Linked DNA regions of Homo sapiens: region 2 is linked to region 1. Evidence: fine-mapped expression QTL. A gene starts in region 1. The other region holds a variant in brackets. All regions are shown on one strand. Distances are from middle to middle. Region 1 holds the start of C12orf60 (chromosome 12 open reading frame 60). Region 2 overlaps ART4 (ADP-ribosyltransferase 4 (inactive) (Dombrock blood group)).

Region 1 (5,386 bases):
GTTTACTTGTTCATTAAAAAAAGAAAAACCTGTGAAGGTGAAGACAAAGAAATAGCTTATATCTCCTAAATGTATTTCTTCCTTTTTCTAGTCCCTACCAATCTCTGAAAAAAAATTCCTTTAATTAGAAATTCTGTGAGACTGTTCTTTCCTTAGTTTTGACTTTAATGTCCAAGAAAGATGGCATCACCTTTCTTGACCATGAAAATTTAGATCTCTATCATTCTTCAGAAATGTGATGAGTGTGAAGACCACTTTGAATATCCTCAAGTCATCAGTTTAGCTTTTTTCTTATGGATCACAGCACTGACTTTGTCAACTGATAAAAACAACTAGAAAATGCTTTAACGATATGGCACAAACCATGAACATCAGAATTCATTAGTCCTTCTTCTATAACCTCCCTTTATTAACATGTAATTGTAAAAGAAGAATAAGAAGGGAATGGGGGTAATGGATCTAGGCTCAAAACACATACCTCACCTTTGCCTCTCTCCATGGTTTTTCTTGGCATGTATGCTGTACATTCTCAATACTTCTAAGACACTAAAAACTCATTAATTTAAGCATATTTAATTCAGATTCAGTTCTAGTTCAGATATAATGCTTGACTCTCAAGAGTTCAAAACACAACTAAAAATGCAAATATTTGAAATTAGTGCTATACTGAGAGCTCCCCAAAACTTAAATATTAAGACACATATTTTTCTTACTAAGACCTGACTCCCAATATATATTTCTTAAGGTAATTAAAGGGAATACTTATTTTTGTTTGAGGAAAAAATATTTTGTAAGCTAAAACTTTTATTAACACAGTACCCTATTACATGACTTCTTCCTCTTATTCCAAAATAATGGGGCTTAATTTTTTGAAGCGCAGTCTTTCCAGTAATAAAGGCGGACAAATTTGCTTCCTTTTGCAAGTAGACACTTTTTAAAGGTAAGAAAGGGAAGATTTTGTCAGCCCAGTTTATTACAGTTAATGTCTCTTTCACCAAGTGTCCAACTGCCCCGAAAGCCAGATGTTTCAGAAAGCCAGATGTTTCACAGCTGTTCTGGTGGCAATTACTTCAAGACAGCGGTATCAAAGGCTCTGATTTTTAGCTTCCTCATCTAAAAAATGGGGACATCAATTACTTTATAACAAAGCTCTGATGATACAATGAGATTACAAATAAAATATCCTGTGATGTTTGACTCACTACTTAACTAAAATCTTTATAATGGATCCATATTCCTGGCCTAGCTACCATACACCCTGTCAAGTGGTTTCCTTCTAAGAAAAACTGGGGATGGGGGGGTTAGGGGGGTGGGAGAGCAGCAGGGAGTAGGAGGTAGGGAAGGAGGAAAACAAGCAAAATCAGTACATATACAAGCTCTCCCATCTTTGATTGCCTGCGTTTTTTGTGCTTTCCTTTCTCAAGTTTCCTCAGGCTCATGTTCTGAATCTCCTCCCCCACAAATGAAACACAACGGATACGAATTACAGAGAATTTTACGGAAGACACTGGAGCTTAAGTCTGCAGATTAGTTTTTTGTCTACAAGCGGAGGCGACTGGAAAATCAAGCCAAATAAGCGTTGGATAACTCTAAACAGCCAAAGAAGCTTCAATGGGATAGGGTCCAGGTTCACCAAAGGAGGCAACACCAGCAACTGACGAAACCATAGCGACGGCTGACCGACCATGACTCGAGGTACAAGACGTCAAACCTAAGGCTACTAATCAACGTGCGTAAGAAGCGGCCCCAACCGACCCGGGCGATGCCAACCGCGCAACCACTGGTCGCCGCGCCACCCCAGGCCCAGGAATAGCCCAGTCCGCAACAGGGAGACCTCAACCAGGGAGAGGAGGAGCGGGGCAAAGGGGCTGGGTGTCCCCCAAGCCGCTGCGCGGGACGTGGAAGGGACGAAAGAGGTGAGGAAGAGTAGTAAATCAATTCAATACACTCACACTTCTGCTGTGCTCCCAGGACTACGAGAAGCGGGTAGGGGGCGACTCCCGGCCTCTTTCACTTCGTAAAGGCCTTCAACTGGGTCTCTCGGTCAACCCCTCAGCTACCGCCATCTTGAAACCTCGCGCCCCTCCGCACTCCTCACGTCATTTCCCATTCCTCTGTCCCGCCTTCTCTTAGCGCCGCTTGACCCTGGAACCATAGAGAATACCCAAGAATTCCAGGACCAGAGTCTCTTCCGGTTCCATACAATACTCAATTGGTTGGTTGTCGGCTAAGAGCCCGCCTCATTGCGCTCATCTAGTACAATAGGAATTAGAAGAAGATAGCTGCTAACTGAGTGGCTGACGGTCCTGTCTCTCGAGTTGGAGGCATCTTGACTTAGTTGCTGGGAGCCTGGTACGTTGAGCCGTCCGAGAACGGTACATTCTGCAGATAAAGAAGCGTTCTGCGTTTTCTGTCTTTTGGAATTACCTTAGTTTTTGCATTTTTCTGTTTCTTATGACCCAAGCAGGTGCGATCCTTTAGGGGTGTCTCCGTGTGTAAACGAATACCCAGATAACATTTGCCACTGAGTTTAATCCGCTTTGTAAGCATCAGGTTATCCCATGTGAGCGCCTAGTACGTGTGGAAATTTAATAGACAGGCAGAACAGAACGTTTGTAGACCACCTGAACAAATAAATTAGCACCCGTATTAGAGTCGCAGATTGCTTATATGGGCGGTGATTTATTATTTGTTAGTAGTGTTTTGAAGAAGAAATACGGGGATACATATGCAGTCGGTTTTAAGTTATATGAGTGGCAAGGTTGATATATATTGGCTATATTCCCGACTGGTCTTTTCACCAGCCAAAAGTCCTCTATGATGTCACTCTACGTACGGGATTCTTCACTTAACTCTAGCCTTCGCCCTTTCCCTACCTTCTATCCCCTCTTTCCGTGAGTCAGCCCCCACTTATTTCCCTTAAAGGTAAGTTTAAACATTTAAAAAACTATCTTAGAGGATACGCTTGGTTATTTCTAATCTTAACCTGACTATCCCATGTAGGAAGGCTATTCTTACCACCAGTTATAAATATTTCAAAATATTGATGGAGATACATACTAATTTTTAGCAGAATCTTTAAACTGCCCTTGAAGGTATAAGATCGGTCCTATACCTAAACTTACCTTTGTGTTAGGAAATTCTTGATTTGATTTTAGACTGAATTTGAGTGTCAGAAAGCAATGACGAGATATTGTAGGTTAAAGCTGATAAACCAGGTAGTACATAAAAAAGAAAATAATCTTGAACTGCGAAGGTGAGCTAAGTTGTAATGTTTTGCAACTAGTTTTTTTTCTTTCCTAACACATTAGTGATCATAGTTTTGCAACTCGTTTTGAAAAACAATGCAAGAAGAGAAAGAGAAAACAGTGTATGTTGGAAATATTAAAGTCTTTCATGTAGCTAAAATTTTATATGTAGCTACTATTTTTAAGATATGCTGAGCAGTTTTTATTTCAATACATTTCTTGTACTTGGATGGGAGAATCAACTATAACAAACACAGTCTGGCATCAACAGCATATTAATAATTTTGTCAGTATAGACTAAAAGAGTCCTCATGGGAATTATTGGTTGGCAAAGGATTTAGAAAACAAACACATCTGCAGAGATTCAGCGGAACCATTAATAGGCTTCCATAGCCTTTGGCGTTTTCTAAAATCAGGTAATTAGTGAAATGGCCCACCTAATGCGTCATGTAGCAAAGGCAGCTGCCTCCTTTTTGCTAGTGTTGAAAATGAAATTATATTCTTTTTTCTGAAAGCTTATAATAAATTATGACTTTCTTTTAAATGACAAATGCTTTGAGTAGTGACCTTCTATTCTGCATCCTAAATGCAATATGTGTAGCTGTGTTTTGCTTTCTTGTCTTCTAAATGTTTCAGTGTTTGAACATTCACTTGAGCGATATTTAATTATCACAGTTGGTCAGGGTTGATTGCAGTGACTGAAACAGGACCTTGATGTTTTTAGTTTTGATTTTTACCATTTTCAAATCCATCCGGTTTACATTGTGTAATCAGTAGACGTTTACAGATCAGCTTCCTGTCCTAATTGAAGCACATTGTTACAAACCATTTTTCAGTCTCTTCTAGTTTACAGAAAACCAGATTTACTCTGATGGTCAAAAATATGGTAGTATTTCTGTCTCATTCGAAGGCCTAGAGTTTGTGTCTAGGCAGAAGTTACTGAGTATGTCCCCTTATAACTAAATGATGTTTGAAGCTGGTGGTAGAAATGAAAGTCTCTGCATTCAATGTGAAATTTAAGAATTTTACTGAAATTAGAAAAGAGAAAAGTAACCCCTATACTTGCTACTCTACGATAGCATTTACCCCAATGTTGATCTGGTAGAGCAGGGTGTGAAAACATCCAGGGAGAAAATTTTTTTACCTCACAGGGTCTAGCATCAGCTGATCCAGGCATTGTTGACTCAAAACTCATCTAGTCATCTAGTCTTGGCATCTCCAGTTTCCCTCTCCAAATTGTTTATCTTATTTAAGTCCATATTGGAAGCCTATAGAAAATGAACCTAATCAAAGAAGCAAACACTGTTACTGAAAAGGAAGCAGAAAAACACTTCAGTGGCAAATAAAACGGCTGTTCATTTCATTTGGTGTTTCACTGTATTGATGACCTCAGTAATGGCATGATTATATTTTTCTGAGGCTGATTTGAACTCCACCAGATGCTTCTCATAACTTTTGATGGCTGCTTGAAGCTGTGTTTTTTCCACTGCTCCCAGGATGGCACGGACAATCATATCTATGCCAAGGCCAAGAACAGCAACTCCAATACTACCAAGGAGAGAAGCACCAATTTGAGCTAACACAGTGACCAACTTGTTAATTATGCCAGTTGTGACATTTGAGCCCACAAGTTTAACAGCGACTGCACTGGCTGCAGATGTAGCTTCTCCCAGGATGACCGAAATAACCTTTTGCACTATTGCAATTTTGTCTGTTTCCTTTTCCTTAATATCCTGAAGTTTTCTATAGAGGGTTGGCTCTAGCTTATCTTTTAGTGCTTCATCAACCTTCTGCAATTCCTTTTGGATTTTCATAATGGCTTGGATGATGAGGTCACAGTTTTCTTTGATGGTCCCATCTCTTTTCATCTCAATGGAGGCCAGCCTGCACCCCAAGTGCATATTTAGAACCTCAGTCAGCTTATTGGTGACATCGAAGCTGTCAGATAAGCAATCAAGAAGCTGCTGGTGAAGACGATTTACTTCTTCCCGCCTTTTTGGGTTCTCTGGGTAAAGGAAGTCACTTTGGGCCATATTTCCAATATGATCGCTGAAAAATAAAATGGTAAATTTTTACTGAAAGTCTTAAAAAATGTCTGCTAACTGTGTAGAAGGGACTAGGAAATCTTTTTCTTCATG
Region 2 (5,386 bases), 29 kb after region 1:
TGTATGTGTGTACTGTATGTATGTATATATATATATATATATATATATATATATATATATATATATATATATACAGTAATTTCTGTCTTATTTTTTTGAGTTGGAGTTCTCACTCTGTCACCAAGCTGGAGTAGATACAGTAATTTTCAAGACCTCAATTTTCACCAATAAGAGTTGGCAAGGAAAATTAAGAGCATATGTCTTTCTAAACTTTTGTCAAAGTTTGTGTTAAAATCAAATTATATGAATCCCTACAGAGACTTAGGAAGCCTTAATACCACTTTAGCAGGTCAATCATTAGAATGGTTCTCAAACGATTTTTGTTTTTTTTTCCTCTTCACTGAGGCTAAAGATCACAAGGATTTCCAGTCCCACCCTTTCCCAGTATTTAGAGAGCTTAAGGGTCTCTGTTAGGCCACACAGTAAGTGACAGAGCCAGTATTTAACCTAGAGAGTCTGATTTAAGAGATTATATGTTGAGCTTCCTGGAATGTAATGTCAATTCTCAGTCCTCACTGTATTTGACCTATCAACCATATTTATGGTAGTGAATCACTCCATCCTCCTTGATACTTACTCTTCATTTTGCTCTTAGGACACCAACTCTATCAATTTTCTCCTCCCTCACTGGCCATTCCTTCTCCATTTTTTTTTTTTTTTTTGAGATGGGTCTTGCTCTGTCACCCAGGCTAGAGTACAGCAGTGTGATCTCTGCTCACTGCAACATCAGCTCAAGTGATTCTTCCACCTCAGCCTCCCAAGTAGCTGGGTCTACAGGTGCACACCACCATGCCTGGCTATTTTTTTTTTGTATTTTTGGTAGAGACGGGGTTTTACCACATTGCCCAGGCTGGTCTCGAACTCCTGAGCTCAAGCAGTCCACCTACCTCGGCCTCCCAGAGTGCTGGGATTATAGGTGTGAGCCATCACACCTGGCCTCTCCATCTTCTTTGTACTTGACCTTTTAAAATGGGAGTGTCCTGAGGTTTGATCCTTGGACATTTTCTCTCCTTTATTTATACACCTTTGTGGGGAGCTCATCCAGTCTCTTGGCTTTAAATACCACCCATAACCCACTGACCTCAAATTTATCTTTCCATCCTGGGTCACTCGGAATTCTACACTTGTGCATCAACTGTCCACTCAACATCTCTGCTTGGGTTACTATTGCACAGCTCAGATATAACATGTCAAATACCAAACTCCTGCTCTTAAATCTACTCCATCCCCAGGCTTCTCCATCTCAGTGAGTGCCACCTCCATCCTTTCAGTTACTCTAGCCAAACCTTGGAGTCATTCTTCACTCTTCTTTTTCCCTCACTTTTCACTTCCAGTGTGTCAGGACCTCCTTTTGGCTCTGAATCTGGTCAAACCTTACTGCCTCCACTCTACCACCTTCATCTCTCAACTGAATGATTGAAATAGCCCCCTACTTGGTTTCTCTGCTTACCTCATTACAGTTTATCCTCTACTGGGCTGCTAGGTCAGTTTTGACACAATCTTCTATGTTTTCTGCCCAAAACCTCTCAGTGGTATCCTATCTAAGAGGAAAAGCCAAAGTCCTTACAACTGCCTTCAAGGTCCTATGTGATCGAATCTACATCATCTTCTGTCTTCGCTTTCTATTATTTTTCTCTCATTCCCGTACACTGGCATCCTTGCTGTTGCTTCTTACTTGAGACATTTGCACTTGCTGTGCTTTCTTCCTGGAATGCTCTTTCCTCAGATATACATGGGACTGGCTCTCTCATCTCCTTTCAACCTTGGCTCAAATGTCACCCTCTCAGTGAAGTTTCCCCTGATCACCCAGTTTAATATTGCCACTCCTTCCCATAGTGTTCACTGTCTCCTTACTCTGCTTTATTTTTCATCTTAGTATGTACCACCTACTAACTACGACATAATTTACTTATTTATTTTGTTTATTTCTGCCTCACATCAATAGAATGTAAATCCCCAAGGGCAGGGATTTTCACCTATTTCCTTCCCTGCACCTAGGATAGTGCCTAGCAAATAACAAGTGACCAATAAATACTGATTTGTTGAATGAATGAATAATAGCTGCTATTATGATGATACCCAAATAAGAGACAAACACATAGACACTACTGTCTTGCAATCATAGTCATTCTTCAAAAAAATTCATAAGTCCTCTTTATAATAATTAGGATGTTAAAAATAGCTTCCTTTTGATTTTATTATGTCAGGTTAAAGTAACTAACTCTGTTGATACTTTTTCTCTACCTCTTTTATGGCCATTATCATTTCTACCTGGCATTATTATTATTATTGTTGTTACATGGACCATATATTTAGGAAAATAAATGAAAGACAGCTGTGCATTAATTACAAACTAAAGTTTTATTTGAGGATACCTCACATTTTTTTTACTTTTGTAGTTGTCTTTAGTTTTCTATTCAACTATCTCTTCAAAGTTTTTAATTTTCTCTTTACCTTTTTACAGGATTTTTAAAATTGGAGAATGTGATCAATTGATGGGTTGTGACATCAGCTTAGGAGGTCATAGCCATCATTGTTTAATAATGTAATAAAATAAGTTAGAATAGAAACACTAGCATTAACACTGCCTATGAAAAGGGTAACTGTTGTATTTTATGAATATGTGTGTATTTGCATATTTATGTGTGTGTGAACTGATTTATAATGTAAACAGTCATAGTCAAGAAGCTTAAAACTAACGGTAGTTTCTCAGCTATATTTGTTGAAGAATGGATGAATCCCCTGAAACCAGTCTATGGAGAATATTGTCCTGGAATTCTTATTAGAAAACATGGGGAAGGATCCTATTTTTGTCATTTGTAAACTATGAATAATTTTACGCAAATCCCTTAAGCTCTCTGAATCTCAGCATTCACATCAGTACAGCGGAGTCAATAACCTGACTTACAGGGTGATTGTGAAAACTAAACAGATAATGGGTGTCCAAGCGTTTTGTAAACTAAACTGCCAAACAAATATCATTTTATCAGTGTATTATAACCTGATTTTGGTCATCTCTGCCTTAGGGTATAAAGTCTGGAAGAAATACATAATGATTATAACTTTTATTTCATGAAGTCTGAATCTGAATTTTATCAGACTGTTCAGAAGTAAATAGTCCTTAAACAGAAAAAGGTAAAGCTGAC[G/A]TGCAGTATACCAAGTCTAGTGTTTGAGGCAAATGCTATCTATAGCCTCTTTCTGTCAAAATGCAAGGAGCAAGAGTGTTAATATTGTAGAATATTACCTAGCAAAAACTTAGCACCCGAAAATGAAAAGCGTTATTCCTTCTGCCTCTTCCTTTGTTTCTCTTCTTACTATCAATTTCACTGAAGCACATGCTTGTGCCATTAAACCATTATCCCACTTCCATGTGCAAAGTACTTTCCCAGAGTTTCTCAGTTGTGTTTGAAAGGAGGCAGAGACACCAATGCTATCACAACATTCCCACAAGATGAGTATCACTTCCATTTTATAAATGAAGAAACAGGCTCAGAGGTTAAGTCATTTGCACAAGGTCACCTAGCTACTAACATATACCCAAATCTTTCTGGCTCCAAAGTTTATTCACTTTCCACCATGCCGTGTGGTCTCCCAGATTTATTCAATGACTCATTCTTTCATCCATTTATCTGAGACAGACACTCTACTTCAAGGTCATTGTGATGCCACAAATAGGGTAAACTAATTTTAGATAATTGAAGCCCAGAGTAAAAGAAAACAGGCAAAATAGAAAGCTAATAAAATAAATAATAATAATGATAATAGTATCTTAAAAGTTTTGAGTACTTAACATTTGTCAGATACTATTCTAAGAGATTTTACATGCATTCATTCATTTTCTCCCCACTAGAATCGTACAGGTTTTTAAAAAGTGAAGTTTACATGTAAAACCAGGCTGACTACAAACAATTGCCTATATTTCTCTAGAAACATGTTAAGAATTTTGATTATGTGAAACATTTTAACAAATAAATCCCTGTTCTTTGTGAATCCAATGATATAGAACAGAGCATGTATTTGTGTGTCTACAGATTTTTGGCATAGGTTATTTTGCTGAAAGAAGCAAGATTTAAGGGCAAATAACTAACATTCTGTTAACATATTTTGAGTCTTCCAATGGGCATGAAGACACCTGTTTCTATGGCAACCAGTACAGGTCATGTGAGGGGTGATGGAATAATTAGAGAGGAAAGCTGTTAGTTTAGAATGACAATTTTTCCTTTTGCAAATTTACTTCCTTAAATAGTATAATTCTATTAATTTGATCTCTTGTCTCTCTAAAAGCAACAGATTCCTGGAAACTCTTTAAACTTGAGTTACATGCTAACAGGACTGATTTTAGCATAAATTGAAGGACTGGAGAAGCTATGCTCTTAAATATACTGTCTCTTCTTTGGGAGAATTACAGTATGCTGCTGGGTAATTTTAAAGGTCTTCAAGTGGTCTTTCCAGTATCACGTCTGTCAGATTGAGAGGGAACAGGAGAGAAAACATAATTCACTTGGCTTATAGGGACTTCTGGGGACACAGAATAGCTTGTGGCTCCTGCTCATGAAACAAAACGAAGCTGAAAGAATGAGAAATAGTGTCCAGAGAAGATTACAGTTTCGTGAGGAGTTAGATATCAGTGTTCCAGAACACCATCTGTGAATTCCCTAGGCTGGGGTTAGTGGAGCAGTGAAGTGGGAAATGGTAGCTATCTAGAAAGTTGGGTCTGGGGAGAGTCCACTGATCTTACTTCCTCCCTGTTAAGGATCCCAGATAAGAAAGACACACTACCTCCTTCCTCTTATTGTTCATGTATGGCTCAGTCCAATACTGCTCCAGAATGTTGGGGTAAGTACTACTTATCAGTTAAAATAAATCACTTTAAGGACCTTTCTGATGTTCCTTCGCTTACTGATTGAGAGAAAAACAAAGAAACAAAGAAACAAACAAACAACACTGTAGCGAATAACTGAAAACATTCTGAAGGCAATCAAACTTTTTTTTTTTTTTTGACGGAGTCTCATTCTGTTGCCCAGGCTGGAGTGCAGTGGCGCGATCTTGGCTCACTGCCACCTCTGCCTCCTGGGTTCAAGTGATTCTACTGCCTCAGCCTCCTGAGTAGCTGGGATTACAGGCTCGTGCCACCACTCCTGGCTAATTTTTGTATTTTTAGTAGAGACGGCTTTCACCATGTTGGTCAGGCTGGTCTCGATCTCCTGACCTTGTGATCCACCTGCCTCGACCTCCCAAAGTGCTGAGATTATAGGTGTGAGCCACTGCACCTGGCTGGCAATCAAACATTTTTTAAATCATAAGAGATAGATATTGTGTCCTGTCCAAGACTGTATTCAGTAGTGTCCCTTTATCCTTAGTGGATACATTCCAAGACATTCAGTGG

The links. PIP is the estimated chance that this variant, and not a neighbour inherited with it, causes the effect.
Region 2: its variant is fine-mapped to the expression of C12orf60 in thyroid (GTEx, PIP above 0.99). The same link has a PIP of 0.9 or more in atrial appendage, breast, left ventricle, lung, subcutaneous fat and sun-exposed skin.

What each region holds. Positions count from the first base shown.
Region 1 is chr12:14,801,400-14,806,785 of GRCh38, forward strand. It overlaps C12orf60 (chromosome 12 open reading frame 60), which reads left to right and starts at 2,271. Exons shown (of 2, transcript NM_175874.4): 1 at 2,271-2,352. It overlaps WBP11 (WW domain binding protein 11), which reads right to left and starts at 2,079. Exons shown (of 12, transcript NM_016312.3): 1 at 1,953-2,079; 2 at 1-29. SMCO3 (single-pass membrane protein with coiled-coil domains 3) reads right to left here. Exons shown (of 2, transcript NM_001013698.2): 2 at 3,251-5,297. The coding sequence starts at 5,281. The coding sequence ends at 4,604. RefSeq lists an enhancer at 2,375-2,614.
Region 2 is chr12:14,830,627-14,836,012 of GRCh38, forward strand. All of the region lies in intron 2 of ART4 (ADP-ribosyltransferase 4 (inactive) (Dombrock blood group)), which reads right to left. Among named protein-coding and RNA genes, the nearest start is that of ART4, 10 kb to the right of the region's middle. The variant G/A (reference allele first, on the strand shown) is at 3,147.